7 separate regions of the Homo sapiens genome follow, and regions 1, 2, 3, 5, 6 and 7 are each linked to region 4. Evidence: fine-mapped expression QTL. A gene starts in region 4. Each other region holds a variant in brackets. All regions are shown on one strand. Distances are between the middles of the regions.

What was found. PIP is the estimated chance that this variant, and not a neighbour inherited with it, causes the effect.
Region 1: its variant is fine-mapped to the expression of MAEA in whole blood (TOPMed, PIP above 0.99).
Region 2: its variant is fine-mapped to the expression of MAEA in whole blood (INTERVAL, PIP above 0.99).
Region 3: its variant is fine-mapped to the expression of MAEA in whole blood (TOPMed, PIP 0.99).
Region 5: its variant is fine-mapped to the expression of MAEA in whole blood (INTERVAL, PIP above 0.99).
Region 6: its variant is fine-mapped to the expression of MAEA in whole blood (GTEx, PIP 0.97).
Region 7: its variant is fine-mapped to the expression of MAEA in whole blood (TOPMed, PIP above 0.99). The same link has a PIP of 0.9 or more in breast and tibial nerve.

Annotation. Positions count from the first base shown.
Region 1 is chr4:1,419,126-1,423,188 of GRCh38, reverse strand. No RefSeq gene overlaps it. Among named protein-coding and RNA genes, the nearest start is that of NKX1-1, 15 kb to the right of the region's middle. The variant A/G (reference allele first, on the strand shown) is at 1,864.
Region 2 is chr4:1,336,355-1,340,417 of GRCh38, reverse strand. MAEA (macrophage erythroblast attacher, E3 ubiquitin ligase) reads right to left here. Exons shown (of 9, transcript NM_001017405.3): 7 at 3,424-3,557; 8 at 1,801-1,996; 9 at 281-1,344. The coding sequence ends at 1,249. Among named protein-coding and RNA genes, the nearest start is that of UVSSA, 8.8 kb to the left of the region's middle. RefSeq lists an enhancer at 718-1,236. The variant C/T (reference allele first, on the strand shown) is at 1,637.
Region 3 is chr4:1,344,668-1,348,720 of GRCh38, reverse strand. UVSSA (UV stimulated scaffold protein A) reads right to left here and starts at 1,513. Exons shown (of 14, transcript NM_020894.4): 1 at 961-1,513; 2 at 532-631. The coding sequence starts at 629. RefSeq lists enhancers at 825-904, 2,750-3,272, 3,273-3,796 and silencers at 1,135-1,574, 1,815-2,144, 2,365-2,454. The variant G/T (reference allele first, on the strand shown) is at 1,698.
Region 4 is chr4:1,287,871-1,291,933 of GRCh38, reverse strand. MAEA (macrophage erythroblast attacher, E3 ubiquitin ligase) reads right to left here and starts at 2,043. Exons shown (of 9, transcript NM_001017405.3): 1 at 1,952-2,043. The coding sequence starts at 2,020. It overlaps LOC105374347 (a long non-coding RNA gene), which reads left to right and starts at 2,363. Exons shown (of 3, transcript XR_925046.3): 1 at 2,363-3,049. LOC105374346 (a long non-coding RNA gene) reads right to left here. Exons shown (of 2, transcript XR_925043.3): 2 at 3,640-3,908. RefSeq lists silencers at 462-644, 1,733-2,012, 2,113-2,522.
Region 5 is chr4:1,231,176-1,235,238 of GRCh38, reverse strand. All of the region lies in intron 3 of CTBP1 (C-terminal binding protein 1), which reads left to right. Among named protein-coding and RNA genes, the nearest start is that of CTBP1, 16 kb to the left of the region's middle. RefSeq lists an enhancer at 757-1,312. The variant A/G (reference allele first, on the strand shown) is at 2,548.
Region 6 is chr4:1,385,418-1,389,478 of GRCh38, reverse strand. UVSSA (UV stimulated scaffold protein A) reads right to left here. Exons shown (of 14, transcript NM_020894.4): 14 at 1,430-3,611. The coding sequence ends at 3,518. Among named protein-coding and RNA genes, the nearest start is that of NKX1-1, 19 kb to the left of the region's middle. The variant C/T (reference allele first, on the strand shown) is at 2,186.
Region 7 is chr4:1,328,580-1,332,642 of GRCh38, reverse strand. All of the region lies in intron 5 of MAEA (macrophage erythroblast attacher, E3 ubiquitin ligase), which reads right to left. Among named protein-coding and RNA genes, the nearest start is that of UVSSA, 17 kb to the left of the region's middle. The variant C/T (reference allele first, on the strand shown) is at 2,121.

The DNA of each region.
Region 1 (4,063 bases), 130 kb before region 4:
AGATATACCAGGGAAATGTTCATCAAAAGAAAGCTGGAATGGCTACAATATCTGATAAAGTCAACTTCAGAACGAGAAAAATTATTAGGGGTAAACAGACATTACATAATGACAAAAGGGTCAATTCACCAAGAAGACATAAAAACCTAAACGTGTATTGCCCTCATAACAGACCTTTAACTGAAAGGAAAAGTAACAGACTCACAACTCTAGCTGGGGCCTCAACAGTCCTCTCAGTATCAACAGAACAATTAGGTAGATAAGGAGGGAGGATACAGGAGAACAATACCATCAGCCAACAATTTCTAAATGACATTTACAGCATCTGCCATCCAACAGCAGCAGGACACACGTTCTTGTCATGTACACATGGAACTCTCCAGAGAAACCATATCCTGGCTTATAAAACAAAACTAACAGATTTAGAAGAATTAAAATTATGTAAAGCATGTTCTTTGACAATAGTGGGTTTAAACTGGAAATGAATGACCTAAAGATACCTTTAAAACCCCAGAGGCTGAGAAATTAACAATTACACTTGTAAGTAATCCATGGATCAAAGAAGTTCTCCTAGAAGAAATTAGAAAGCATTCTGGACTAAATACAAATGAAAATTTAAAATATCAAAATTTTTGGTATGCAGTTAGAGCAGCTCTTAGAGGGAAATTTTTAGCAATAAATGCTTATATTAGAACATCTCATTGACAACCTAAGCTTCTAATTTAGGTAACTAGACAAACAAGAGCCAAAGAAAACCAAAGCAATCAGAGGAAAGAATAGTAAAGATAAAACCGACGTCAGTGGAATTAAAAACAGATAACCAGGTGCAGTGGCTCATGCCTGTAATCCCAGCACTTTGGGAGGCTGAGGTGGGCGGATCACTTGAGGTCAGGAGTTTGAGATTAGCCTGGCCAACATGCAGAAACCCCGTCTCTATTAAAAATACAAAAGTTAGCCAGGTGTGGTGACACATGCCTGTAATCCCAGCTACTTGGGGGTCTGAGGCAGAAGAATCACTTGAACCTGGGAGACAGAGGCAGTGAGCTGAGATGGCGCCACTACACTCCAGCCTGGGTGACAGAGCGAGACTCCATCTCAAAAAACATAAGTAAATAAAATGTTAAGAAAAATAGAAACAAAAATATTAGATAAAATCAATGGAATCAGAAGCTGGTTCTTTGGAAAAGTCAATAAAAATAGGTAAAACTGATAAAGAAAGAGAAGATACAAGTGACCCATTACAGGCATAACAGAGGGGCTGTCACTGCAGAGCCCACAGGCATTGTAAGGATAACAAAGGAGCATTCCATGCACGGATTCAGCACCTCAGATGACTGGACCAATTGGAAATCCACAAACTACCAAGACTCACTCAAGAAGAACTAATAACCTGAACAGCCCTATCTCCACTAAAGCAGTTGAATCCATAGTTAATAACCTCCCAAAAAAGAAAACTCCAGGTCCAGATAAATTCACTGGTGAATCTTACGAAATATTTAAACATAAAAATAACTCCAATTCTATACAAAACTTAATCAAAAAATAGAGGTGGAAGTGACACTTTCTATTTTATTTTATTTTTTTCTCTTTTTTTTGAGTTGGAGTCTTGCTCTGTCGCCCAGGCTGGAGTGCAGTGGCGCGATCTCGGCTCACTGCAAGCTCCACCTCCCAGGTTCAGGCCATTCTCCTGCCTCAGCCTCCCGACTAGCTGGGACTACAGGCGCCCGCCATCATGCCCGGCTAATTTTCTGTATTTTTAGTAGAGACGGGGTTTCACCATGTTAGCCAGGATGGTTTCGATCTCCTGGCCTCGTGATCCACTCGCCTCAGCCTCCCAAAGTGCTGGGATTACAGGCATGTGCC[A/G]CCATGCCCGGCTGGAAGTGACACTTTCAACTCATTTCGCAGGGCCAGAATTCCCCTAATACCAACACCAAAGTCATCACAAGAAAAGAAACTACAGGACAAAACCTCTCAGGCACATAGATGTGGAAATCTTCAACAAAACACTAGCGATCAAATCCAGAAACATGGAAAGCATGAGCACATGATGGCCAAGTGGGGTTTACCCTGAGAACACAAGGCTGTTCAACAGAGAACGCCAGCCATCACAATCCACCATGTCAACAGACGCAACGAGAGAAGCCATATGAGCCTATGGATACGGAAAAAAAATGTGATAAAATGCAACATCTGTTAATGATTTTACAAATTTCTCAGAAAATTAAGAATAGGAAGGAACTTCCTTAACCTGGAGCTATTATAAAATGTTTTTGAATTTTTAGGATTTAATCACTGATCGTGGGTATATAGAAATTAGATTGACCTTTTTCAGGCTTTTTCTCTGACCTTGCTGACTTATGAATTCTGGGTGCTTTTTCCTTGGGATTTTCTACGTAGATAATCATGTCGTCTGTATGCAGGGCTAGTTTTATTTTTTCTGTTTCAATATGTTTACATTTTATTTCTTTTTCTTGCCTGAAATATTTACAGGTGAAGCAACTTAATGTCTGAAGGTATATTTTAAGATTCCAGAATAAAGGTGTGGCTTTGGATACACAAAACCATATTGACACCAAAATGTTGACAGATGTTGCATCTGAGTGACAGGTCCCAGGAAGCTGATCTTACTCTGCGCTGTATTTTTGTGTGTGTTTGAAATATGTTATAGTAGAGGGTACTTTTTTTTTTTTTTTTGAGATGGAGTCTCCCTCTGTCGCCCAGGCTGGAGTGCAGTGGCGCGATCTCAGCTCACTGCAACCTCTGCCTCCCAGGCTCAAGCAATTCTCCTGCCTCAGACTCCCGAGTAGCTGGGATTACAGGCACCTGCCACCACGCCCGGCTAATTTTGTATTTTTAGTAGAGACGGGGTTTCGCCAGGTTGGCCAGGCTGGCCTCGAACTCCCAACCTCAGGTGCTCCGCCTGCCTCGGCCTCCCAAATTACAGGCATGAGCCACCATGCCCAACCCAAGGTTACTTTTTAACCTATTGCCACCCACAAAACAACCTCAATAGCTGACCAAATGGAAAAAAGACAGAGCTCACAAAGAAGACAAAGTTCACAAAAAAAAAGAAGCTACGTGGCTAATATTCATGAGGGAAAATGTTCCTTCTCACCAGTGTCCACAGAAATGGCAACCGCCACAGAAGGAGGCGGGGATGCCACCCTGTGAGATGGTGCCCATGCCAGTGACGCCGGAGACGTTACCCAGCCTTTAGGAATTCCCTCCCTTTAACCCAACCCATCACTTCTGGTGTCTCCTAGAGGTGAACTCAAGTCTAAACAAGAATCTACACAGCAGTGGTTCCAGGCACAGAAAGCCAGACTGCCTAGGCACACGGATGGACGGCTCACGCCCTCCGTGTGACAGGGTTCTATGGGACCGGTAAGAACCTGTGTTACGAAGTCTGCTATGACAACGAGAAATGCCTAGGATACAAGGGGGGGCCAGCATCCAAGTGCCCAAGGCTATAGGTGCAGCGCCCACATTTATGGTTTTTTTTTTTTTTTTTGAGACAGAGTCTCGCTCTGTCACCCAGGCTGGAGTGCAGTGGCAAGATCTCGGCTCACTGCAACCTCCACCTTCTGGGTTCAAGCAATTCTCCTGCCTCAGCCTCCCGAGTACCTGGGACTACAGGTACTCGCCACCACACCCGGCTAATTTTGTATTTTTTTTTTTTTAGTAGAGATGGGGTTTCACCATATTGGTCAGGCTAGTCTCGAACTCCTGATCTCAAGTGATCTGCCCGCCTCGGCCTCCCAAAGTGCTGGGATTACAGGCGTAAGCCACAGCACCCGGCCAACATTTATGTTTTTAGGAAGCAGAAAACGAGATGAGAGGAAAGCAGAAAACGGCAAGGTGTGAGCTGGGCCGTCGCTGTGCTGTGGGTTATGGGAGATGCTGCTTCTCCTCTGTGCTTTTTCACGAGCACGTGTTACTTTGATCACTAGAAAAGGCAACGGTTGTCTACAATCACTGTGAGGGCAGGATGTCCTCACAGACACCTGGCAGGGTTCGGCCAGGTCAGCAGGAAGCCCAGGTGGCATCCTCGTCACAGCTGGAA
Region 2 (4,063 bases), 48 kb before region 4:
CCACCCCCAACAGACAATGGCCCGTGGGTCCCAGGAACCAGTGTCTGATTCACCCAGCTGCAAGCCGGGGCCTCAAGACGCTGGGGCCATCACGCCTCAGGGCAGCGCCCGAGAGGAGGACTGCGGTCCGGGCAGGAGTGGCCTCCAGCCGGCTTCTCAACTCCCGGTGGCCGTGGTGCCAGAAGCTACGCATATGCCCGCCATGCTGCCCGGGCCCCGGGGAGGAGCAGAACACAACCTCGGTGTTAGAAACGCACGGCAGCCTCGGCTCACACGGAAATGAGAAATAGAAAACCATTTTATTCGCATGGTTTACATTTACAGTTTATTAGCTAGTCAACATCAACATGCAAAAATAAGCACTAACTACAAACCTCTACGATACGGTTCTCTGTCAGCTACGGTGGTTCATTTGTTTTGAAAAGTCATCAGTACTTCTTTCAACTGAACGATTAATTTCTGTAATGGATAGCAATTAGACTCTACAGTTATGGAACCATCCGGCAAGGCCTCTGCAGAAATTTGGTCCCGTGGATTTCCACGTTATACATTCTCGAAGCAGGAAGTAAGGCGGCACACAGAGGGTGTGATATCGAAACGACGCAGCTACGAACACAGCCCCGCGATGTGATATCGAAACTATGCACGTACGAACACAGTCCCGCGGACACGACCCGCGAGGCAGGCGGGCGTCCTCGAAGCCAGCCCCCGACGGTGGCGGCGCCAGGCGTTTTGGCAGCAGCTCTCGAATGAAGCCATAAGTGTCCCTCGTGGCGCGGCATCGCGGGTCACTGCAGGTCAGTCCGGTGCCGCTGCCACCTTCCCCGGCCAGGCCAGGGCCAACAGGAAGTGGTGAAGGACCAGCCCGTTCTCCAAGTCTCATCGTTCACAGAAGGAAAGAAACTGAAAACACAGGGAAATCACGGACTCCTATATTTTAAACGTTCTTAAGTTTCCCTCGGTGTTTAGGTCAGTCTTTAAAGAAGAGTTTCCTTCGCAAGTTGAAAGTACTTTTCAGAAGCATCAAATGGTTGACGTGTTACAAAATCCTACCAATCCAAATGTTTTCAAGTACAAACTTATGAAACCTTATTTTCTCTCTTCCTAAGAGTATTTATCGTTGCTCACGGATCTTTGGTCGCAAGAAACAGAAACGCCGCGGCAGGCTGGAGCGTGGGACAGGAGGAAGGCGTGGCCTCCCCGCCCACTGCAGCCCGTCCCCGAGGCGTGCGCTTCACGACGTGGGGCCTACATGATGTACACCTTCTCGGCTTGTGAGAAGTGGAAGACTTCTTTGGTTCTCGGGCACACGACTTTATCATCTTGACGGATAGAAAGCAGAGACTGAAAAATAAAACCGGGAATGCATTAAGGCAAGCGACTACAACGTACACACGGATTTCCATGGAAAATCCCCACAATGAACCACCAGGGAATGACTCATCCTCTCAGGCAAAGTTCCTTCCCGAAGGCACACCTGCCAAAGAAATCCCGGGGCCACCTCGCCTGTCCTTCCCACCCCTTCATCCATTTCGAACGAAGCTAAGGCAGGGTGGGGCGAGAGGACAGCCCTGTCCCAATGGCGACGTGTGCCAGCCTGGCCCCGCTGCCCTGCCCGCCCCACACAGCCCTGTCC[C/T]GATGGCGACGCGTGCCAGCCTGGCCCCCCGCCCTGCCCGTCCCACACAGCCCTGTCCCGATGGCGATGCGTGCCAGCCTGGCCCCCCTGCCCTGCCCGTCCCACACAGCCCTGTCCCGATGGCGATGCGTGCCAGCCTGGCCCCCCTGCCCTGCCCCCCTCACATTGTAGCCGTAGACGTAGCCGTTGGGCAGCATCATGGGCGGATTGTTCTCGTTCATCACGTCGCCAGAAATCTTGCAGACCAGGCGGGAGTTGGCACAGTGGGCCATGGGCAGGGGCTGCGCCAGCTTGTTCAGGGAGCGGCTGCACACAGGGCAGTCAGGGCTCTTGGAGCTGCCGTCCTCCTTGTAGCACTGTCTGAGCATCGGGTCAAGGAAGGGTTGGGGGCCACTCAGGGCAGCCGGGGTGAGCCCAGCCCCCTGTGGCCACTCTGCCCTGGGCTGCGTGCCCTTCTGGCTATGTGGGCGCCATGCTGACTACACGGGGCTGTCTTTCGAGGCACAGGAAGTGCTGCACTCGACAGCTAAACAGCCCCACTGAGGCCTCGGTGGAGACAAGAAGCCTGCGCCTTCTCACCCCGGCCTCCAGCACCAGGACCACAGGCACAGAGTGGCTCCGTCGCCCGCCGCCCTCTCCCCGGCCACGCAACCTCTCCAGGCAGGACAAGAGCCACCCAGCAGGGACGTTCTGCTGGCACCTAGGAACAGGCAGTGGGCAAGCACGCCAGCCCTCTCGCCCAGAGTTCCACAAAGAGGGGACAAGGGAGGGGGCCTGAGTCTCATTCATACCCCGGCACAGCCAGGTACCAGCAGCAATCGCGAAACACTCACTGCCCTCTGGGCCTGAGGCAGGTCACATGAAAGACATTCATAGGCGGGGACAGAGTCAGTTGCAGGAGGACAGTCAGTCACAGGTGGGGACAGAGTCAGTCACAGGTGGGGACAGAGTCAGTCACAGGAGAGGGCAGAGTCAGTCACAGGCAGGGGTAGAGTCAGTAAGAGGCTGAGTCACAGGCAGGACGGAGTCAGTCACAGGTGAGACAGTCACAGGGCAGGGGCAGAGTCAGTCACAGGCGAGGACAGAGTCACAGGCGGGATGGACTCAGTTGCAGGAAGGGACAGACTCAGTCGCAGGCAGGGGCAGAGTCTGTCACAGGCAGGAAGAAGTCAGTTGCAGGTGGGACAGAGTCAGTCACAGGAAGGAATCAGTCACAAACGGGACAGACTCAGTCACAGGCAGGGCCACAGTGAGTCGCAGGCAGGGACCAAGTCCGTTGCAGGCGGGAGCCGAGTGAGTCACAGGCAGGAACTCAGTGAGTCGCAGGTGGGACAGAGTCACAGGCAGGATGGAGTCAGTCACAGGCAGGGACAGAGTCACAGGCAGACAGAGTCGGTCACAGGTGGGACAGAGTCAGTCACAGGCGGGACAGAGTCAGTCACAGGCAAGGTTCTTGGTAATCACACGGGAAAACTATTCTGAATGGTAATCTGCCGGCTGCCAGAACACATCAAAATCGGGCTTTTAGATCAATGCCCATGGCGGCCTCTGAGATGATGAGAGAGGAAGCGCGCCACTTCCCAGAGTGAAGGCTGCACGACGCATCCGAGGCCCCTCAACACGGCCCCACCCCGACCATCCAGACACCACGCAAGTGCAGCACACGGGAGCTCGGGGCTGTCTGTGGTGGGAGGACAAGAGTGGCAAGGTGCAGGGTCAGCGTGTTAAAATATGACCAAAGATGCCAACCCCAGGCCAAACCGCACTGCGCACGGGAGGTAGGATACGGTGTCTTGATGGCTGAGAGGCCAGCCTGCAGGGTGAGGGTGAACACAGAATTGTTTCCCAGCTGGTGTAGTCGGTAGTTGTCGTACCGGAACTGCTGGATCAGCATCCGCCACCGTGCAGGGTCCAGAAGGTCCTGGAAGACAGAGAGCAGAGGGTCCTGGGGATGCTCCCAGGGAAGCTCCTGGGACAGCTTAAAAACGTGGACCATGGTGAAGCAGGTGCCATCGGCCCACAGCCATCCCCCAGTGACCCACACACTTTGCACTAAGGGTCAGCACAAAGCATAACTCCCTCAAGTGTTGACTGATACACACAGTGGGATGAGTGCTGACTTAACTATGATTTCAACATGCTGCGGGATGAGTGCTGACTTAACTCTGATTTCAACATGCTACAGGGTCAGTGCTGACTTAACTCTCTGATTTCAACACACTGCGAGGCCAGTATGAACTTAACTCTGATTTCAACATGCTGCGGGACAAGTGCTGACTTAACTCTGATTTCAACACACTGTGGGATGAGTGCTGACTTAACTCTGATTTTAACATGCTGTGGGGTGAGTGCTGACTTAACTCCGATTTCAACATGCTGTGGGGTGAGTGCTGACTTAACTCTGATTTCAACACACTGTCGGGGGAG
Region 3 (4,053 bases), 57 kb before region 4:
AACACAGGATACAGAATAATCAGTGTCCTCGACTTATGCTCCACCCTCCGAGGGGAAGTTTTGCTTCCCCCATGAATCTCTGGCTGCCTGAGGGTGACGGCAGAGATCCCCTCCGGCGTTTTCCTTGGAGGAAGTGAACAGAGGTGGACATACCCTAAAGGCGATGGACCAACTCGCCCATCAGCAAGCTCTATTCTTTCCCTTCGAAAAGTCCAGCAGCAAAGAAAAAGATGCACGTTTCTCTCTGAATCACATTTGTGCACTCAAGAACTCCTACAGGATGTGCTCCAGACCACACAAATGGGAATGAAGAGAAGCACCAACCACAGAGCAGTGGGGTCCCCAACGCCACACGCCCCGACCCCAGAACATGACCACCCGTCAGAGCCGGGTACTGCAGGGCCCCGAGAAAATGTCCTGGGTGTGTCCCTCGGGTGGTTCTCTCCCAGGTGGGGGCAGGAGGGCAGGGCCCTGTGTGTGTCCTGGGCTCAGTGGGCCAGTCAGTTACTGTTACTGAACCCTAAGACATACTTGCAAATTTTCTTCAGTTCCTTCATTTTCTCAGGATTTAGTCGGGGTTCTCCTGAAGTTGTGAGCTCTTCTACCAACTTCGAAAGTTTCTGATCCATATCTAGAAATAAGTAAGGCAGAGATGCTATATCACCATCTGTATTTTATAGCTCTCGGTGTTATTAACGTGTTTACTGGGTTCCACTATAAACCGAAAGCTCCGGGAGGACCCTGAGGCTGGGGTCCATCTGTGGGTGCCTCTCTGGGAAATATGTGTGTCCAGCAAGGCCTTTACGGCGGTGATTGCAGTTTTAAAAGTGAACCTTAAACTCGGGACCTCTACAATCCCGTGTGTGGGACGCTGCATTGAGGGTCGTGCGTTAAAGGAACCAGTGGCGCTGTCCGAATCAGCTTTTCCCCAACGTGACTGTTGCTGTTTCCCTTATTCACTCAGATTCCGCAGGGCAGCCTCCAGCAAGGCTGCAGAGGCCAAGAGGAGCCAAGAAATTCTGAGACCAATGAAAAGTCGCGTCCGGAGAGCAGGGGCGGCCCTAACGGAGGCAGCCTGCCCGGATACCCAGGGCCGAGCACCGCGGCGTGCCTGGTGGGATGAGGCGAGGGCCTGCCGCACCGCCAGGGAAAGGCCGAAGGACCCGGAAGGAAGCGCCAGGCGAGGCCGGGGCGGAGGCTGGGAAGCTGCGCCCTACTCGGGGAAAGAAGGGGCCCGGCAGGGCCACGCGAGGCTTGGACCGCGGGGTCGCTCTCGCACAGCGGCTGCACCGGGCGGGCGCGCCGGCTTCGACGGTGCTCGGGGGGCTGCGGCCTGTCACTCGGCCCAGGGCCCGCCCTCCGGCCCCGCCGCCGGCGCTCTCGGGCACACGGGACACGCCCTGGCCGCAGGTCTCTGCCCGGCGCCCGCAGAGCCCCGGGGACCGAACCGGCGCGACCCCCGCCCGGCAGCGTAACCACAGCCCCACCTACCGCTGACGCGGCCGCTCGCCTCGCCCCGCCCCTTCCGGCGGGGGGACCGCCCCTCTTGTCAGGTGCCCAAGACCTCTACCGCCATTGGCTGGCCCTGGGCCGGACGCATCAGGACCTGGGGTCACCACAGCGACGACTGCACCTACCGCTCGACGCGGCCTTTCTCGCCGTTGCCCCACCCTTTCCGGTCAAGGCCCCGCCCCCTA[G/T]CACGTGCCCTGAGCTCGACAGCCAATGGCTCACCCCAGCCCAGGAGGCGCAGGCGCAAAGACGCGGCCGAGGTCTGCGCGGTGACGTAGGCGCGCTCCCGGCGAGGGCGAGGCAGGCTGCCGGGGGTGGGGAGGGGGACGCACGAGAAAAAAGAGGCGGGAGGGCGCAGAAAGTCCTTAAAGGGGCCGCATGTACGGGCGCCGGGGGCGGGGCCGGCCGGGAAACTGAGGCCGAAAGGAAGTTCCGGTCTGGGCCTCAACGCCACGCCCGCCCGCGGGCTCGCAGCCAGGTCCCTTCACCTGCAGAGGGCCGGTGAGGACCGCCCAGACGGGCGGGCGCGGGCCCCCGCCCCCGAGCTCGCCCCGCGCAGGGCGCCCTGAACCCCGCGGCGCCTCCCCGCTCCGGCCTCGGGAAGGGAATCCCTGGGCGGGCTTGGGGGTCTTCGGGGCCCACCTCGGCGCCAGACGCACAGCAGGTACCCCTGGGCCCGGGCTGGCCCTGGGCGGAATGAGAAGCAGAGGCGCCGTCCGTCCTGCCGCCGAAGTCCGCAGCCTCGAACGCAGGGGAGTGCGAGGTCGGCTGCGGACGGACGGACCTGGAGACCGCGCTTGGGAAACCGTGGCTTCGGAGGAGCGTGGTGTGGACCCCACTCGCGGGGCGCCCGGCACAGGCCACGCAGAGCAGACGCCCGACTGGGCTCCCGGGGCTGGGTGCAGGGCGGGGGCCGCCGGCGGCGGGCCGGGGTTTCTTTTTCGGGGGGATGGGCGTGCCCTTGCATTACGGTGGTGGTAGCTCACAACTCTGTTAATCGTGTTTTTACAGGGTGGGTTTCAGGATGTGTGAGTTATATCTCAGTAAAGCAATTATTTTAAAAAGGAAAAGAAGAGGGACTCCCTGCGCCGCCCCTCTCTGCAGCACCAGCTTCTGTCCCTGGGCGTCAGTGGCTCCCAGCTCCTAGCTTGCAGCCAGCCCCGAGCCGCTCCTCCGCCTCACCCCTTCCTCACCCTGCCTCTTGCTTCACTGAGCAAGCTGCAGCCAGACCCTCCCTCAGCGCCCCTTGCCCTGTGCATCCAATCCCCGGCCTGTGGCTTCCTCCAAGGCACCCATCCAGCAGTTTCCCTCTGTCTTCTACAGCGTGGTTTTTTTTGTTGTTACTAGTTCTCATTAGTATAAAAGGGTGCCGTTTCTCCCATACTAACAAAACCCTCTCTTTATCCAACTTTTCTTACCAATTGCTAAGTCCAGTCTCCTTTACACTGCCCCGGGGTGTCCTCTCAGCCCTCAGGCTCAACAGCACAGCCAAGCTGCCCGTCCACTGCCCTCTGTATCCGCTGATGGCCCTGCAGCCTTTTTTTTTTTTTTTTTTTTTTTTTTTTTTGAGACAAAGTCTCGCTTTGTCACCCAGGCTGGAGTGCAGTGGCACGATCGCGGTTCACTGCAGCCTCCGCCTCCCGGGTTCAAACGATTCTCCTGCCTCAGCCTCCCGAGTAGCTGGGATGACAGTCACCCGCCACCACGCCCAGCTCATTTTTGAATTTTTAGTAGAGACGGGGTTTCACCATGTTGGTCAGGCTGGTCTCGAACTCCTGACTTCAGGTGATCCGCCCGCCTCGGCCTCCCAAAGTGCTGGGATTACAGGCGTGAGCCACCGTGCCTGGGCCACCGTGCCTGGGCCTGCCCTGCATCCTTCTGTTCGCTTGGACCAATTATCTGACTCACTTGGGCTTCTCTCTTCCTCTCACTCCATGCCCATTTGGTTTGCAAATCCTGACAGCCCTACCTTCAGAACACATCCAGATCTGAGCACGTCCCACTGCCTCATTGCCACTGCCAATTCCTGGCCACCCCTGCAGCAGGTCACTGCCGTCACCTTGTCTTTCCCTTGCACCCTGGTACCCCTAGACCATCATGCAGCAACCAGAGGGACCTTTGAAAGTCTAAGGTCGGATCACAGGATTCCTCTACACAAAATCCTCCGACGGCTCCCATCCCAGGGCAAGGCAAAACCTGTCGTGGCCTGTGTTTGCTGCCCCCTGCATCCCACCGGTTGACTTCTCCAGCCTGCTCTTGCTGCCACACGGCCTCTGGGGAGCGGATCCCTCTGCCGGGAAGCTTCTGCCAGTATCCACAGAGTTCCTTGCCTCCTTCCAGCCACTGCTCATGTCTCACCCTGAGCAAATACTTCTGCACCCGCTCACCTCCCTGGCTCAACACCCCCCATCCGTTTTCTAAACCTGCCGTGCTTGTTCCCAGGGCACTTCTGGCCCTTGTGTCACACAGACTTACTGTCTTACTAGGTGATTCGCTTTTTTCTCTTCACTCCTAAAACATACAGTCCCTGAAAATAGGGATCTT
Region 4 (4,063 bases):
TTCTATGAAAAAAAGTTTTAACTCAGTAGTGACACAAGTGTCAACAGAGAAATTATGACACTATAATATTTCTTTACCTGTATGACTATCTGCATGACTATTTTAATCAGAAGCTATGCAATCACTCTGGAATACAAATTACATTCACGATTACAAAACAGCAGAAGACCTGAAGAAGAATCCTTTCCGGAGACCTTCCATCTCCCTTCCTAGTTCCTTCAATACACAATGAAAGGATTTCTGGAAACTTTTCCTATCTAGTGTTTCCCACATTCACCAGCCAGTACCAGAAGTGACAAACCACCACGGTTCTGATCTTCAAACCTTCTTGTGTGTTAGCTGAAATGACAGGCCTGGAGGTGCACTGCGTGAGACAAAGTGGTCAGTGGTTAGGACTCCCTACTAATATCACCACAATGTCCTTGTATAGACTTCTCTCAGCTGCAGGGTCTCCATCTCTAAACCAACAGAGATCCACCAATGTCACTGAGTATTAAAAACCAACCACCTACATCTTGGAGGGATCTAGCAAGAGGCTAGACCTTTGGTAACGTCAGCAACATTGCCCTCCCTTCCTTGATCAAAAGAAGTGCTGGACACACAAGCACCATGAAACCCCACTGCGAAACCATTAGTGTGGCGGGCGCGTGGCTCACACCTGTCAGCCCAGCGCTTTGGGAGGTCAAAAGGCAGGAGGATCGCTTAAGTCCTGGAATCCAAAACCACCCTAGGCAACAGTGAAACCCCGTTTCTTTTTAAAAATATGAAATAAACCGCTAGTTAATAAAGAGGAGGAGAAGCTTGCTTCTGCTTTCCTATGAAGACCAGCTACAGCAGGGTACAGCCTGACTTCAGCAGCGCTAACTGTAGCAGGGACCTTTTAATGAATGCTAGGCACTGTTTGAAACAATACGTGGTCACTCATTTCACCCTGAGGTGACACAGGCGCTACCACTGCTTAAACCTGACAAGAATAAACAGTCACCAACCGGGCCCTGATGTCTCCCAGTAAGGACGAATACAGAGAAGCCTGATTCACACCCCAGCAGGATGGCTCACAGCCTGTGCTCTTCAGCCCTTCGCTGAACTGCCCTGGGGCTGGGGGAACGCACAGCAACCTGGCCATACTGCATCCTCCACACCTGTCGCCACACCGTCCGTCCTCAGACGGACGTGAACACCAGGGCGCTCTGGGAGGAGAGAGAAACTACGCAGCTCTCCAGGAAGGCAACACAGAACCACGAAGCTCAGCCGCAGCTCTAGGAAAGCTATGACCTTGATCTTTTAAGGAATTCCTTCCCAGGTGCTTCATATCAAATCCTCTACTAACTAGGTAAAGAACAAGTATCGGCTCCTTCTACTAGGAGCACAAATTTCATTCTAAGAAGTGCGACGTGGCTAGGTGACCACCCAAGGTCACGCAACCGGCAGCCGGACGGCAAGAGCTGTATTTCAGGTTTGGTGACGCCCATCAAAAAGGTCGCTGGGTGCCATCAGGCCGTGAGGTTTCTCCCTACAGTTCCTAACTAGCGACCGGCGCAGCCGGCACCTCCCAGCCCTGGGCTCCCGGGAGGGCGGCCGGGCACTGGCTGGGCACGCCGCGCACTCCGTCTGCCTGGGCGCCAGAGACCCCACGCCCCGCAAACTCCGGCTTCCACCCCAGCCCCAAATTCGCCACCCTTAGCGCTGCCAGAGTCGTCGCTGGCTCGGCTCACGCAGCTCTTCAAGCAGAGGGGCCACAGTCGGGCGCCTGGCAGGGCCAAAGCCGCCGCCCCCGCCACACCTGCCCGGCGCGGACCGGGCGCCCCTGAGAAGCCCGCACGGCCCCGCGAGGCCGCGCCCAGCTCCCGCCGCCCTCGCCGCTGGCCCTCCCGGGGCGGCCCCTCGCGGCCCGAGGGCACTGGCTGGAGACGCCTTCGCTGCCCTCAGCCTGCGCGGCGCAGGCGCCCACCTTGAGGGTCGGGTACTCCTGGACCTTCAGGGTCATGGACAACTGAGCCGCCGACTCCTGCACCGCCATCTTGAAGCGGCCAAAACATTAGCGGGCGGGGGACGCGCGAGCGCGCTGCACGCCGGGAAATGACGCCACGCGCCGGCCGGAGCAGGATGGGGGCGGGCCGATGCCCCTGCACCAATCGTATCCGCCCAGTCGGCCGGAGGCGGAAGAAGGCGCGAACCAATCACTGCCGGGTTTCCTCTCGTTCAGCCAATCAACGATAGCCCCGGCTGGCGGTTTCCACCTTGAATTCGCTACCGGGTTCAGGCCGCAGACGCCGGAGCTGGGGATGCTCCTGGCCCGGGGCGGGCCGATGGGGTGCGGGCTGCGGCCCGGGCGGGTGGAGCTGGGGCCGAGCGGGCTGGGGGACTTGGCGTCCGTCCAGTTACTTGGGGCTCCCGCGGGGTGGTCCCCTGTGGGTCCCTCGTGCCTGCGGTACCAAGGGCAACGCCAACAAAACGCCTGGCCGCATGCGCCTGTAGCCAGCTATTTTTCTTTGGCCTTATTTTGACCGATTTACAGCTGCTGGAATCCTGATGTGGAACCTCCGACTTCCCAACGGAAGAGGAAAGGCCCAGTACCTAAAACTGATTTATGGACAGAAACTCCCGAAGCATGAGAAGCGTGTGGCCTCTCCGCCCTCTCCTTGCAGGGCGGGCAGCGCTGGCATCCAGGTCGTGCGCTGCCTTCATTTCAGCCACTTCACATTCTCAGCCTTTCAAACACCACCCGTCTCCCTCCTTTCCAAAATAAAACTGAAATTAGATTTTATTAATTAGGAAATGACGTCCCAATTAAACCACCTTGTGTTTCACATAACACATTTCTAAACAACTTTTAAAATATTTGGTGTTTAAACAAAGGAAAAACATCTAAGGTGACACAGCGATGAAGGGAGAACCTCCGCTTGGAGGCTGCTACATGTTACAGCCGCAAGACATCCGACCCGCACTGTGGAATCTTTCTCTGTCTTACTTAAACAGGAGTTGGGACTAAGGAAAGTGTTATTCCTCAAGTGTGTGGCTGCAGACTCCAGTCTTTTAGACATTTGAAGTAAGTTTTACAGTGAGGTGCACAAATCTTAACTATACAGCTTTAATGAATTTTCACCCATATTTGCACTTTTATCTAACCGTGTCCTGGTTGAGATTTAGGACATTTCCCGTGGCACAGAAAGCTCCTCTGCCCCTTCCCGGGCTATATCCCCATCATTCTAACCCTGCTCCCCGTAACAGCGTTCCTGACCTTCCTATAGAGATGGAAGCATGCACTCTGTACTCTTTGCGTCCTTTCACGGTTCGCATCGTGTCTGCCACTCTCCGGGATGGTCCCAGTAGTACACAGGAGCACTGCAGCAGTTGGATGGACTGCACTCCTCTTAGAGACTGCCTTCACTTCACCAGGGATTCAAGATTAACCCAAAGGAAAGGACACGGGTTTCATTTCCATGGTAAAATGATCCTATCCTAGTACCATCTACAGTCAGAAATACTTAGGAATTATAAGGCAGAGGTTTGCACGTTGGAGAGGTTGTTTAACCCTCTACAACCTTTGAGTCATTCATTCTAGGTTTTCTTATGTTGGAAGATAAAACTGTATTTGAATTAGTCCTTTTGTAAACCAAAAAGTGTCTGAGACAGATCTCAATCAGTTTAGAAGTTTATGTTGCCAAGGTTAAGGATCATGACCAGTGACACAGCCTCAAGAGGTCCTCAGAACACATGCCCAAGGTGGTTGGGTTACAGCTTGATTTTATACGTTTTAAGGAGATGTAGGCATCAATCAGTACATGTGAGATTTACATTGGTCCGAAAAGGCAGGACAACACAAAGCACAGCGGGGCTTCCAGCTCACAGGTGGATTCAAAGATTTTCTGATTGGCATTTGGTTGAAAGAGTGCTTATCTAAAGATCTGGAATCGAGAGAAAGGAGCATCTGGGTTAAAAGGGGTTGTGGAGACCAACGTTCTTATTACATAGATGAAGCCTCATAGGTGGCCACCATTAGAAGCAATAGATGGCAAATGTTTCATATCTAGATCTTAAAAAGCTGCTAGACTTGGCCGGG
Region 5 (4,063 bases), 57 kb after region 4:
CTCGGAATGCGCGTCCACACACAGACCTGCACGTCATGCTCCCTAGCAGCTTAACTCACCATAGCCCAAACCAGAAGGACGCCCCCCACCGGCTGTCCTTCAGTGGGTGAGTGGCCAGGCAAATGCTGGCCACCTCCCTCGGTGTCCTCCTCAGCAACAGGCATGAACGCTGGGTCCCTGCCACACCCTGGGTGATCTCGGCAGCATGATGGCGAGTGAAGAAGCTGGTTTCAAGGGGTGCACACTGTATGATCTCTTCATCCCCAGGTGATAGGATTAGCGTGACGGAAACAGTGGCCCGGGGTGTAGGTGGGGGGGCCGCCGGCAGGCCGGTGTCTGGAATCGGCACATGGGCACGTTGGCACGTCACGTGGGCATGTCCACACGCATGCAAGGGGCTGTGGGTGAACTGCCCGTGGTGCACACCTGAGGGAGTTGTGTGGCACCAGCTCGGTTTGGACAGTGCCCTTTGTTAGGTACGGTTTTCTCATTGGGAAGCTGGATTTGTATTAAAGATGCACACGTAAGAATAAAAAAGAGGCTCGTAGAAAACTTTTGGTGTCGTAAACAATACTCAAACAGTTTTGCCAACAAATTGGAAAGCTAAGGCAAAACAGATGTTTTTCTAAAATTGCAGTAATCCCAAACTGCCTTGACAGGTTCATATAAAATGCAGATCAGTGGTTGGGGTGGGGCCGGCGTGGGCCCTGGCATGAGACAGACTTCCTGCTCCCCACCCAGGCTGCACAGCCCAGGGCAGAGAAAGGACAACATAAATACACAGAAAACTGCCCCAGGGGATGCAGCTGGATTCTTGGAAGAGACGAGAGTGTTGGGAACCGTCCTGGCATCCTGGAGGGGCCTGAAGCAGCCCCTAACCAGAAGCAGAGCCGGCGCCACAGAAAGGAGCCCCCAAGAACTAGGAGAGCTTGAAATTAAAAACATGAGTGAAAATCTCATAAAAACAGGAAGCTCAAAGACACAGGGACATTGCAGAAGCCAGAGAGGTGAAGAGAAGCCGTGACCTCCCGGGGCTGTGTGTGGAGTCTGCAGGGGCTGCCTGGATGCCGAGTCCGCGTTTCGCAGTGTGTGGTCCTGTGGGAGGACTTGGCTGCCCACGCTTTCTTGCCACTAGGGGTGGCCAAAGGATTGAGCTCCAGAACAGAGGGGAGCAGGGCCTCTCCCTGCCGTCCCCTCCTCGTCCCTGCTGGCTGGAACCCGGGGTAGCCACCTTGGACTGTGAGGGGAGCCACGTGCTGGGAACCGTGGAGCAACAAGGCAGGAGGCAGGGACCCTCGTGGCTGTGGAGAGGGCAGCGGGGCCGCAGGCTCCCTGTCTCCAGGCTTTGGCGTGGGAGGAAACTGAACACCTGCTTTGTGTGCCACTGTTAGTCAGGAATTCTGCCTCCTGGGGCAGAAACTTCCCGCATAGCTGGTTGGAGGTCGCCGCCGTCTGAGTGCCGTGGAGGGAGAGAACGTGATACCGTCAGTGCGGTCACAGGAGGAGCGGGAAGAATGTCGGGGCCTGGGAGGCGCCCCAGTGTTCAGGTTCAGGACTGGGATTTTACTGATACCACGGGTGGGGGATGTCACCCACCGGGACACAAGACTCAGCCCAGCCCCACTCGCCTGCTTTGGAATTTCCACAGGAGAAGGGTTTTCAGCCCAGCACTGCACATCTGATCAAACTGCTGAGCAAGAAAAAGGAAGCCCTGGAGCCTGGAGGCTGCGTCCGGTGTGGGCTGCGGGGCCTGGAGCGGCAGGGCGGCTCCGGGAGGGCACAGGACGCAGTGGCCTGCGAGGACCTGCAGCCAGCTGGACAGTTGCACTCCTGCAAGACAAGCATCTCCACGCCTTGGGGGTGGGGAGGCCACCAGAAAGCTCCGCCAGACAGAGGTGCTGGGGCTGTGCAGGAAACGAAGTGATTAGAAATCCCGGAAAAACACACAAGCAGGCGTTGTCATGGTGACTGGGAAAAACACACAAGCTGGCGTTGTCATGGTAATGGAGTGTAGGACAGGCCTGGAGCCCCTCGGTCTCTTGCTGGCGGCTGGCACAGAGACGGGCTGCCGTGGGCTCTGACCTTAATACCGGGTCACAGTCGCTTCTAGGACCAAGAGGACAGAGACCCCATCACCGTATGCAGGGGCCTGTTTCCAGGCAGACTGCCCAGTGCCCAGCTGAGCCTCGGGTGCAGTGCGACCCCCGCAGGGCATGTCCAGACCCCAGGACCCCCTCTCAGGTCTAGAAGATCCAGTTGGGCAGTGTTGGTACCACCAAGAGTAGACAGGACAGAGGATCAGAGACAATCCCACCCAGCAGGACCCAAGGACTCAGGCAGTGGCTTTTCAGGTGTGTGGGCCGAGGACTGGGGAGTCGGTGAATTCTGGGGCCCCTGGGGTGGCCGTTCAGGAACTGCAGCAGCTCCCCCCACCACAGATGCTCGCTGCCTACTGAAGCGGCCACGTGTTTGAATGAAGAGCAGTTAGAGGAACGCTTGCAAGAGAATGTGTTTATTACCTGAGGTTATGACAATACAGAACATACA[A/G]TGTTTTCTGTGGAAAATGTGATACTACAGAGGAAAAGGTCACTTTAATTAAATGGCAATTAGAAGTAACAGCATTGCAAGGTGGGGTGCAGCAGCTCACGCTTATAATCCCAGCACTTTAGGAGGCTGAGGCGGGTGGATCACTTGAGGTCAGGAGTTCAAGACCAGCCTGGGCAACATGGTGAAACCTCGTCTCTACTAAAAATATAGAAATTAGCCACGCGTGGTGGTGCGCGCCTGTAGTCCAAGATACTCAGGAGGCTGAGGCAGGAGAACCTCTTGACCCTAAGAGGCAGAGGTTGCAGTGAGCCAAGATCGTGTCACTGCACTCCAGCCTGGGCAACAGAGCAAGACTCTGTCTCAAAAAGGAAAAAAAGAAAGAATGACATAGCAAAATAAATTTAAAAAATAAAAACGGGAGAGGTAGGGGTTGGGTATTTTCAATTTGTGTGCCAGCCTAAGGGTGAATGTCTGATAACACTCAGAGCTGGTGCAGGGGCTGTGCCTGTCATCCCAGCGTATCCAGAGGCCAAGGCCAGAGGATCGCTTCAGCCTAGGAGGTCAAGGCTGCAGCGAGTCATGATTACACCACTGCAGTCCAGCGAGGTCCTGTCTGTAAAATAAGTAAATGAAAAAGTTTATATATTCAAAGACTCCTCCCAATCAGTAGAAACAGAAAAATCCCGACAGAAAATGGATGAGGGCGGTGGCGTTTGGTACAGACAGAGCGGTGTATGAGAACCGGGGTGCGCCTCCTGGGTTCTCACAGGTGCAGCAGGCACCGCCGGTAACCCCTGGCCTGGCCTGCGCTGAGCCCTGCACCAGCCGTGCTGAGGGAGCCTGGGCCTGGCCCTTCATGTGGGATAGAAACGGCCGTGCCGGTCTCGATGGTGCTTTGGCAGTTTCTCTGGAAATCTGAAACCTGCGGTCTTCAGCCCAGCCCCACCCTGGGCCTGCATGTGGCTGCGTGTCGTAGAGAAACATCTGCCCTGATGGTGACCTGATGTGAGCAGCAGTTTCACAGAGTAAGCCACCCCTGTGCACGAGGTCTGGAAAGGTAAGTGCGACGTCGAGTCCTGAGCACAGAAGCAGGTGGCAGAACTGCATGGCAGGAGGTGGGCTTGGCGGGCCCCTTCCTGACCCCCAAGAGCCAGCTGCCACCAGGAGCGTCCTGGGGTCTGTTTCCAGCCCGGTGGCAGCCGAGCTTCCTGGGCACCCAGCTTTCCCCAGCCTGCTCTGAGCACTGGAGTTGAGGGCACTGAGCAGAGTGGGGCTGAGCCCCTGGCGGTGGAGGGGACACATCAGTGGGTGTTGGCTTGAGGTGGTTTCTGGGAGGCTGCTGGGCCCCGATCTAAAGGGACACACCTGGCTGCACCCACCTCCTGCAGACTTTCTCCGTGGGAGACCAATGCAACAGGCGGGGTGGAGCAGCCACGTGGCAGCCACGAGGGGGAAAGGAAGGTAGACCCTGAGGCTGAGCCGCTGTGGCACCCTGGCCTGTGGACCTGTGGATGAC
Region 6 (4,061 bases), 98 kb before region 4:
GATTGCTTGAGTCTGGGAGGTCAAAGCTGTAGTGAGCCATGATTGTGCTACTGTACTCCAGCCTGGGTGACAGAGCAAGACTCTGTCTCAAACAAAACAAAACCAAAGACAGAAAATTAGCTGAATGTGGTGGTGCATGCCTGTGGTCCTTCCTACTGGGGAGGCTGAGGTGGGAGGATCACTTGGGCCCATGAGTCTGAGGTTGGAGTGAGCTATGATTGCACCACTGCACTCCAGCCTGGGCAACAGAGTGAGACCTTGTCAGTTAAAAAAATTTTTTTTAATGCTATGAACCATTATATATGAACAGATTGCAACAAAGAACCTAGAAAGGGACAAACTCCTGGAAAGATGCAAACTACTGGAACTAAACAGATCTATAATAAATGAAGATACTGAATTAGGGAAAAAAATCCCACAAAGAAAAGCCCAGCCTTCACTGGTAAATTCCACCAAATGTTTAAATAATTAACAACAATCTTTCACAAACTCTTCCAAAAAATAGGAGGGGAGGGAACACTTCCCACCTCAATCTATGAGGTCAGTAGTGACGTGACTAAAGCTAAAGACATCACAAAAAGACTACAGCCCAATATCCCTCATGAATACAGATGCAAAATCCTAGCAAACCAAAGCCAGCAGCATAGAAAAAGGATTATACACCATGAACAAGTAGAATTTGCCCCATGAATGCAAGGTCGGTTCAATATATGAGAAACAATGTAATATACTGTATCACTATAATAAAGGACAAGAATCATACTATCATCTCGACAGATGGAGAAAAAGCATCTGACAAAATTCAATACTTTATGACAAAAACACTCAACAAACTAGGAGGAGAAGGTAACTTTTTCAACCTGATAGAAGCATCTACACAAAACTGCATTGTTAGCATCACATTCAATGGTGAGAGACCGAAAGCTTCCCGCTAAGATCAAGAGTAAGACGAGGATGTCTGTTCTCACCACATCTATTCAACATTGTCCTGGAGGTACTAGCCAGAGCAATTAGGTAAGAGAAATAAAAGAAATCCAGATTAGAAAGAAAGCTGTTTGCAGATGACATGATTTTGTGTATGGAAAATCTTAGGGAACATACAACTAATTAGAATGAATAAACAAGTTCAGCAAGGAATGCTGGATACAAGATCAATACACAAAAGTCAGTTGTACTTCCACATATTAGCAATGATCAGCCCCAAAGTGAAATTTGGAAAACAATTACATTTGTGATTGCTTTTGTAAATGCAATTTATAATCTTTTAATAATTTATAATTGCATTTATAGTCCTTTTGGTTATAAATCAAAAATAATAAAATATGAGTAAATTTAACAAAATAAGTGAGAAACTTATATACTGAAAACTACAAAATACTGTTGAAATAAATTTAAAAAGACCCAAATAAATGGAAAGATAATCAGAAGCTCATGACTCAGAAGATTTAATATTAAGACGGTAATACATTCCAAAGCAATCTCTAGATTTAATGTAATTCCTATCAAAAATCTCAGCTGCTTTTTTTTTTTTTTTGAAGAAACTGATGAGTGGATCCTAAAATTCATTTGGAAATGCAAGAGATGCAGAAGAGTCAAAACAGCCTTGAAGCAGAACAAAGTAAAACTTCTCACAACAAAGCAGCACTGATCAAGGCACTGTGGCACTGGCATAAGGTTAAACAGGTCAATGGAATAGAGTCAAGTGCCCAGAAATAAGCCTGTACATTTTTGGTCAACTGATTATCAATAATGGTGCGAAGATAATTCAATGGGGAAAAATAATGTTTTCAACAAATGGTGCTGGGACAACTGGATATCCACATGCAAAAGAATGTGGGCTCTTACACCACACACAAAACTTAATTCACAATGGATCAAAGATCTACACATAAGAGCTGAAATTATAAAATGCTTATTAGAAACTAGGTGTAAATCTCTGTGATCTTGGATTAGGTGATGGCTTCTGAAATGTGACAGCAAAAGCATAAGCAACAAAAGAAAAAAACAGATAAATTGCTGTACTTCATCAAAATTAACTTTTGTGCTTCAGAGGACACTATCCAGAAAGTGAAACAACAGTATGGAAGAAAGTTTTTGCAAATCAGCTGAGTGCGGTGGCTCACACCTGTAATCCCAGCACTATGGGAGGCCGAGGTGGGTGGATCACGAGGTCAAGAGATCAAGA[C/T]CATCCCAGCCAACACAGTGAAATCCCGTCTCTACTAAAAATACAAAAATTAGCTGGGCGTGGTGGTGCGCGCCTGTAGTCCCAGCTACTCAGGACGCTGACGCAGGCGAATCGCTTGAACCCAGGAGGTGGTAGTTGCAGTGAGCCGAGATCACGCCATTGCACTCCAGCCTGGCGACAGAGCAAGATTCCATTTCAAAAATAAATAAATAAATAAATAAAGTTTTTGCAAATCACATGAGGATCTAGTATCCACAGTATACATATAAACTCCTGGCCAGGAGTGGTGGCTCATGCCTGTAATCCCAACACTTTGGGAGACCGAAGCAGGAGGATCGCTTGAGGCTAGGAGTTCGAGATCACCGTGGGCAACACAGTGAGACCTCATCTCTACAAAAAATTTAAAAAATTAGCCAGGTGTTGTGGTGTGTGCCTGTAGTCCCAGCTACCTGGGAGGCTGACGTGGAAGGATGGCTTGAGCCCAGGAGTTTGAGGCTGCACTGAGCTATGATTCTGCCACTGCACTCAGCCTGGGTAAGAGCAAAAGCCCATCTCTAAAAGGAAAAACAAAAAAAACAACTGTTACAACTCAAGATAAATCATTCAATTAAAAATAGGCAAGAGGTTTGAATAGACTCCTCTCCAAAGGAGATACACAAATGGCCAGTAAGCCCACGAGAAGATGTTCGGTATCCTTCTCCAATGCTGCTGTGAACATGGGTGCACAAGCTTCCGCATGGACAGGTTTTCACCTCCTTTGTTTTATACATTGGAGGGGAACTGCATGGATAAACCTTAAAAACAACGCCAAGTGTAAGAAGCCAGGGACAAGAGGACACATGTATGAAAAGGCACATCCAGAAACAGAAAGCAGATGACTGAACGGTTCACTAGCCTTTGTGTTTGTGTTAAAAACAGCATTTGCACAAAAGTGGGTTTCCCAGAGTTCCTCTGAGTGGTCGCCTCCTGGCTGGGGAATGCACGCTCTGAAGGCTGAGCTGCACACACATTCCGTCCGTGCTGAACCCCACACCACGACAAGCACTGGTCTCACGAGGACTCGCAGAAGCCCTCTGGAACAGGGTCGCTGCCTGTGTTCACATCTCCAGGCCCGAGGGCCTCTTCTGCGAGGCCAGACCCATCACCAGACGATGCCGAACCCTGTAGCAGCAGAGCGGCCGTACCTTCAGGGCATTGCAACACACCATTTCTTTACATCAAACACAGTAATAGACAAAGCATGGTTACTGCCCAGACCCACGCCCACTCTGCTGTCCTGAGACACTGGCAGAGGGAGAAAGTGCTGATGGCCAGTGCACTGGGCCCCGCTCTCTAGTTCAGTGCGTAGTTAAACTGGTTTGAAAACTTCTCGTGCTTCTTCTGGTCCATCCGGTTCATGGCTGCCACTACCCTCCGCACAGCTGCCCTGTGGGGAAACAAGGCAAGATGTGACCTGGGAGGCTTCCGCCAGGGGCCTGGGCTCCCAGTGGCGGCATCACCAAAGTTAGGCACTGGTCCTGGGGCAACTGCTGCCCTCGGACACTGACAGACTGCCTGTGGGTGCCACCTTCAGAGACAGATGGGCGACGGGCCCCTTGGCCCTGGCCCGAGACAGACAGGCTTAGAAAGGGCCGCCCCAGGTCCCAGAAGCGGAGTCTGCGGCGGGTGGTTCTGCGCGGTGAAGGTGGCCCCAGCCCCACCTTGGCACTTCTCCCGTGGCCTCCCGCACTCCAGGATGAGGGCAGCCTCCCCCTTGGCCTCCCGGGGAGCGGCCTCGCAGGAGATGCAGCCAGGAGGCGTCAGGACAGCCCTGCCCGCTGCTGCACGCACGGCTCCACGGCCAGGGCTGGAAACCTGGAGGGCTGCAGCAGGGGGG
Region 7 (4,063 bases), 41 kb before region 4:
AGCCTCGAACTCTCAGGCTCAGGCGATCTTCCCGAGAAGCTGAGACCGCAGATGTGCAGCACCACACCTAGCTAATGTAAAAAACATCTTGTTAGAGACAGATTCTCGCTGTGTTGCCCAGGCTGGTCTCCAACTCCTGGGCTCAAGCCATCTTCCTGCCCCGGCCTCCCAAAGTGCTGGGATTATAGGCATGAGCCGCTGCACCCGGCCTGCATTTTTAAGTTGAAAAATCTGAGCTAACAGCTTTTATGTCAGAGTCTAGGTACAAAGTAATCGCCTCACTCCAAGCCGACCTGCTGGGTGGGGCTGGGATGGCGGGAGGTGCGGCTCACCAGAGGCTGGAGGAGCAGCTACCAGACACTCCTTCCTCCAGGGGACCAGGGCACCCAAGCCACACAGACAACCCACGGAAAACACCAGAACTGCAAATGGCACCTGCCCCCGAGGGCTCTCCAAAGCGATTCTGGTTTACAAGGAACCCAAACCCTGAGGATTCCCACTCTCCCCAGATGCTCGCCCCCACGGACCCCGTGGCCCCAGCGGACCAAGAACGTGTAGTCTTCTCAACTGCAGTCCTTGCTGTTTGGCAGTGACGCCCAGCACAACCTTCCGAAGAACAGCCTCCCTCAGCCCACAGGCTGGACTCCCTGCAGATCCGGCCCAGCCCTCTCAGCCCTGAGCGTGCCACACACCACATGCAGCCACGATCTTTCCTGAGCCAACTCTGCGGGATGCACACAGGCCTACTCCAGGCCAGAACCCCACTCCAGTCTAAGGCTGGGCAACCAAGAAACCAAAGCAGAACATAACAGATCCCTTTCAAGCTGACCAGCGGGCACCTGCTCACCCCCAGGGCCCCCATTCTCATGCCCCCCCCCACACACAGGGTCACTGTCCCTCTGGCTGTCCTGAGGGCCTGCACCCCCATGTCCTGACCCTCACACGGGCCCCTGTGCACCCCACGTTCTCAGCCCTCAGGGCCCCTCTGCCAAAGCGACCCCAATGCACAGAACCAGGGGCCTCAAGTCCCATGTGTGAGTCAGCCCTGTGCTGTCCAGAACAAGGCATGTACCAAGGAACACAGGGCTGAGGAGGTGCCAGGCGCTCACGGTGGCCTTGGAGAAGATGCAGTGTCTCGCAGAGACTGGAGTTAGTGTAGGAGGTGGCCCAGCAGCCCCTTGATGGATAGCACGGGGACCACGTGTTGGAAGCACCACCAGGAGAGCCCGGGGCAGCAGGGAGTGGGGGGCGTCCACGCTTGGGACCCAGCCTGGGGAGTCCACATGGCTGACGCCCCAGGGCCTGTGCAGGGCCTGGGAGTCGGGGGTGAATCCACACGGCCGACCCCGCAGGGTGCATACAGGGACTGGGAGTCGGGGGTGAGTCCACACGGCTGACCCCGCAGGGTGCGTGTGCAGGGGCTGGGGACGGCCATCCGAGATTCCAGTGCCCATGCATCCCCCTCCTTGGAGCGTGTGGGTGGGCGTGGGTCTGAGTCCAGGAGGAGCCCCACCCAACCCCCTCATTCCATCTCTGGAGACAAGTCACCCTTCGTCACACGCCAAGACGTGCACAGAACACGGCCAACGGGCATCTCACCTCCTCCCAGAGCTGCTGAAGAGAGGAAATTTAATCTCCGTGGTTGACATCTACAAGATCTCATTTGCATGACCTGGTTTACGCGTCTTATCTCACCATCAATCAAACCCCAGACAGACATCATCCGCCTAACAAGCTGCCTCACCTCGCACCCCAGGTCCCTGATCCACAAATCCTGACCCCAAGACAGAAACAGAAAACCTAACAGTGGCGGCTGACTCTTTTCAGATCGTTTGATGCCAGCATTCAGCCCCAACACACAGAGAACTGCAGCCGAGATGTGGGGCCCTCAGAGCAGGTCCGGGGAGAACAGCACGGTATGCATCCACAGGACACAGGGGAAACAAAACCGTGACTTTTAACAAACTAAATGCAGCTAACATAAGAAACACAAAAACTTCCATTTTTCTTTAAAAATATAAACACACGGGCCAGGCACGGTGGCTCACGCCTGTAATCCCAGCACTTTGGGAGGCCAAGGTGGGCGGATCACAAGGTCAGGAGTTTGAGACCAGCCTGGC[C/T]AACATGGTGAAACCCCATCTCTACTAAAAATACAAAAATTAGCCGGGCGTGGTGGTGGGCGCCTGTAATCCCAGCTACTCAGAGGCTGAGGCAGGACAATCACTTGAACCCGGGAGGCGGAGGTTGCGGTGAGCTGAGATTGTGCCAGGCAACAGAGCAAAACTCAACCTCAAAACACACACACACACACACGGAAAGAGAGAGAGAGAGAAACACCCAGAAGACAAAATTCCTAAACTGTGCCTGGCCAGGCTGAGGTGTGGGTGTGCGACAGACGGCACGGAGCTGCTCACACAAAGCCCATGAAGTACAGGCCAGGTCCCAGCCGCCTGGGGTCAGGGATTCACTTACTCATTTACTAAAAATTAAAGGCGTTAAAAGTTAATCACTAGCAGCTCATACTTTTGCATTTCGCAAAAACCCACAAATGCCCCAGGCAGGGCGGAGCTGCAGCCACCCCAGCCAACGAGGCCCCCTGCCCGGCCCAGCACGCTGGCTCCACAGACAGCAGGACTCACCTTGCCTGCCCCAGTGGACCCAGAGGCTAGGCTGCTGGCCTCAAGCCCTGTAGATGGTGCCCGACGCTCCAGCGCCATGTGGACCGTGAGTTCAGAGGTGGACGGGAAGCTCCTGCGGGCTGGGACCCTGGCAGCAGGTGAGAGGGCCCTGCCTGGAGCCCTCAGGAGACATGTGGCCAGGCTTCTCCGCCTTCCCTCTTGTCCAGCCTCAGTGAGTGATACACAACACCCTCTGGGCTCCCAGCCAAACACCCGCACTCCCTCACCCCACAAACGTCCTGCCGATGCCCCACCTGCCACCCCAGCCCAGCTCCCGTGTGCCTTGTGGGTGGCTCCAGGGCCACGCTGAGCTGAGGCCGGACTTCCCTGACCAGGCCCTGGCACCTGGAGAACCACTCCCAAGACGGCCCCAGCAGAGGATGTAGCTCACACTGCGCCTGCCCCCGAGACACTGGGGTGTTGTTTGCCATGCCTGCCCGGCTGGCTGCTGAGGCTTCGAGGCAGCACGTGTCTGCTTGCGGGAGGAAGGACACGCACTTCCTGGGACCTGCCTGCTCCCCTGCAACAGACGAGGCCGCAGAGGGCACAGCTCTGAGCTCGGCTCAGACATTATGAGGTGGAGGCCCCGCGAGTCTCTAGGGCAGATTCTACCCAGAGCAGGGGGAACAAGGCAAAGAGACCCTACACGGAGCGGGGGGAACACAGGCAAAGAGACCCTACGCGGAGCGGGGGGAACACAGGTAAACAGACCCTACACGGAGCCAGGGTAACACAGGCAAATAGACCCTATGCGGAGTGGGGGTAACAGGTCAACAGACCCTATGCGGAACCAGCTGCCACCTAGATGAAGACATCTGTGACGGAGGGACTCCGGGATGGACACGTTTTGTTTTCAGACTCCAGGGCTGACAGTGGCCGGGGCCCTCAAGGAGACGGAGGCTGACTCGGGATGGAAGCAGACTGCCGCCGGACAGAGGCCAGCGACACAGGCACCGAGGCCACACGGAGGCCAGAGCAGAGCGGGAGCCCCTCCTCTTGACAGGGGGCCCCTGGCCGTGTCCCCGCAATGCTCACACGCCACTCTCCACTGGCCCGGGTCCCGAGATCCCCGCTTTAGCCCTCTCAGGCACAGAAGGGACCTCGTTGCAGGCCTGGCTCCCTCGTGCGTGAAGACGAGGCCTGACCTGCCACCATGCGCCCAGGTCAGCATCAGGAGCCGGAGCAGGACCCCGGGCCTCTCCAGGGTCCACGCAAGGGCAGGGACTTGCCGCGGTTCTGCCGTGCGTCTTGGGGACCACCCTCAGCACCTCATCGTGAGACGCCCACTTCTCCAAATGGGCCTTCTGTGGAACACTCGGCCACCCGGCCCACTGCAGGTGGATATGGAGTCGCGGTCGGGTTTCTGTGGGCATGGACAGGTGCCC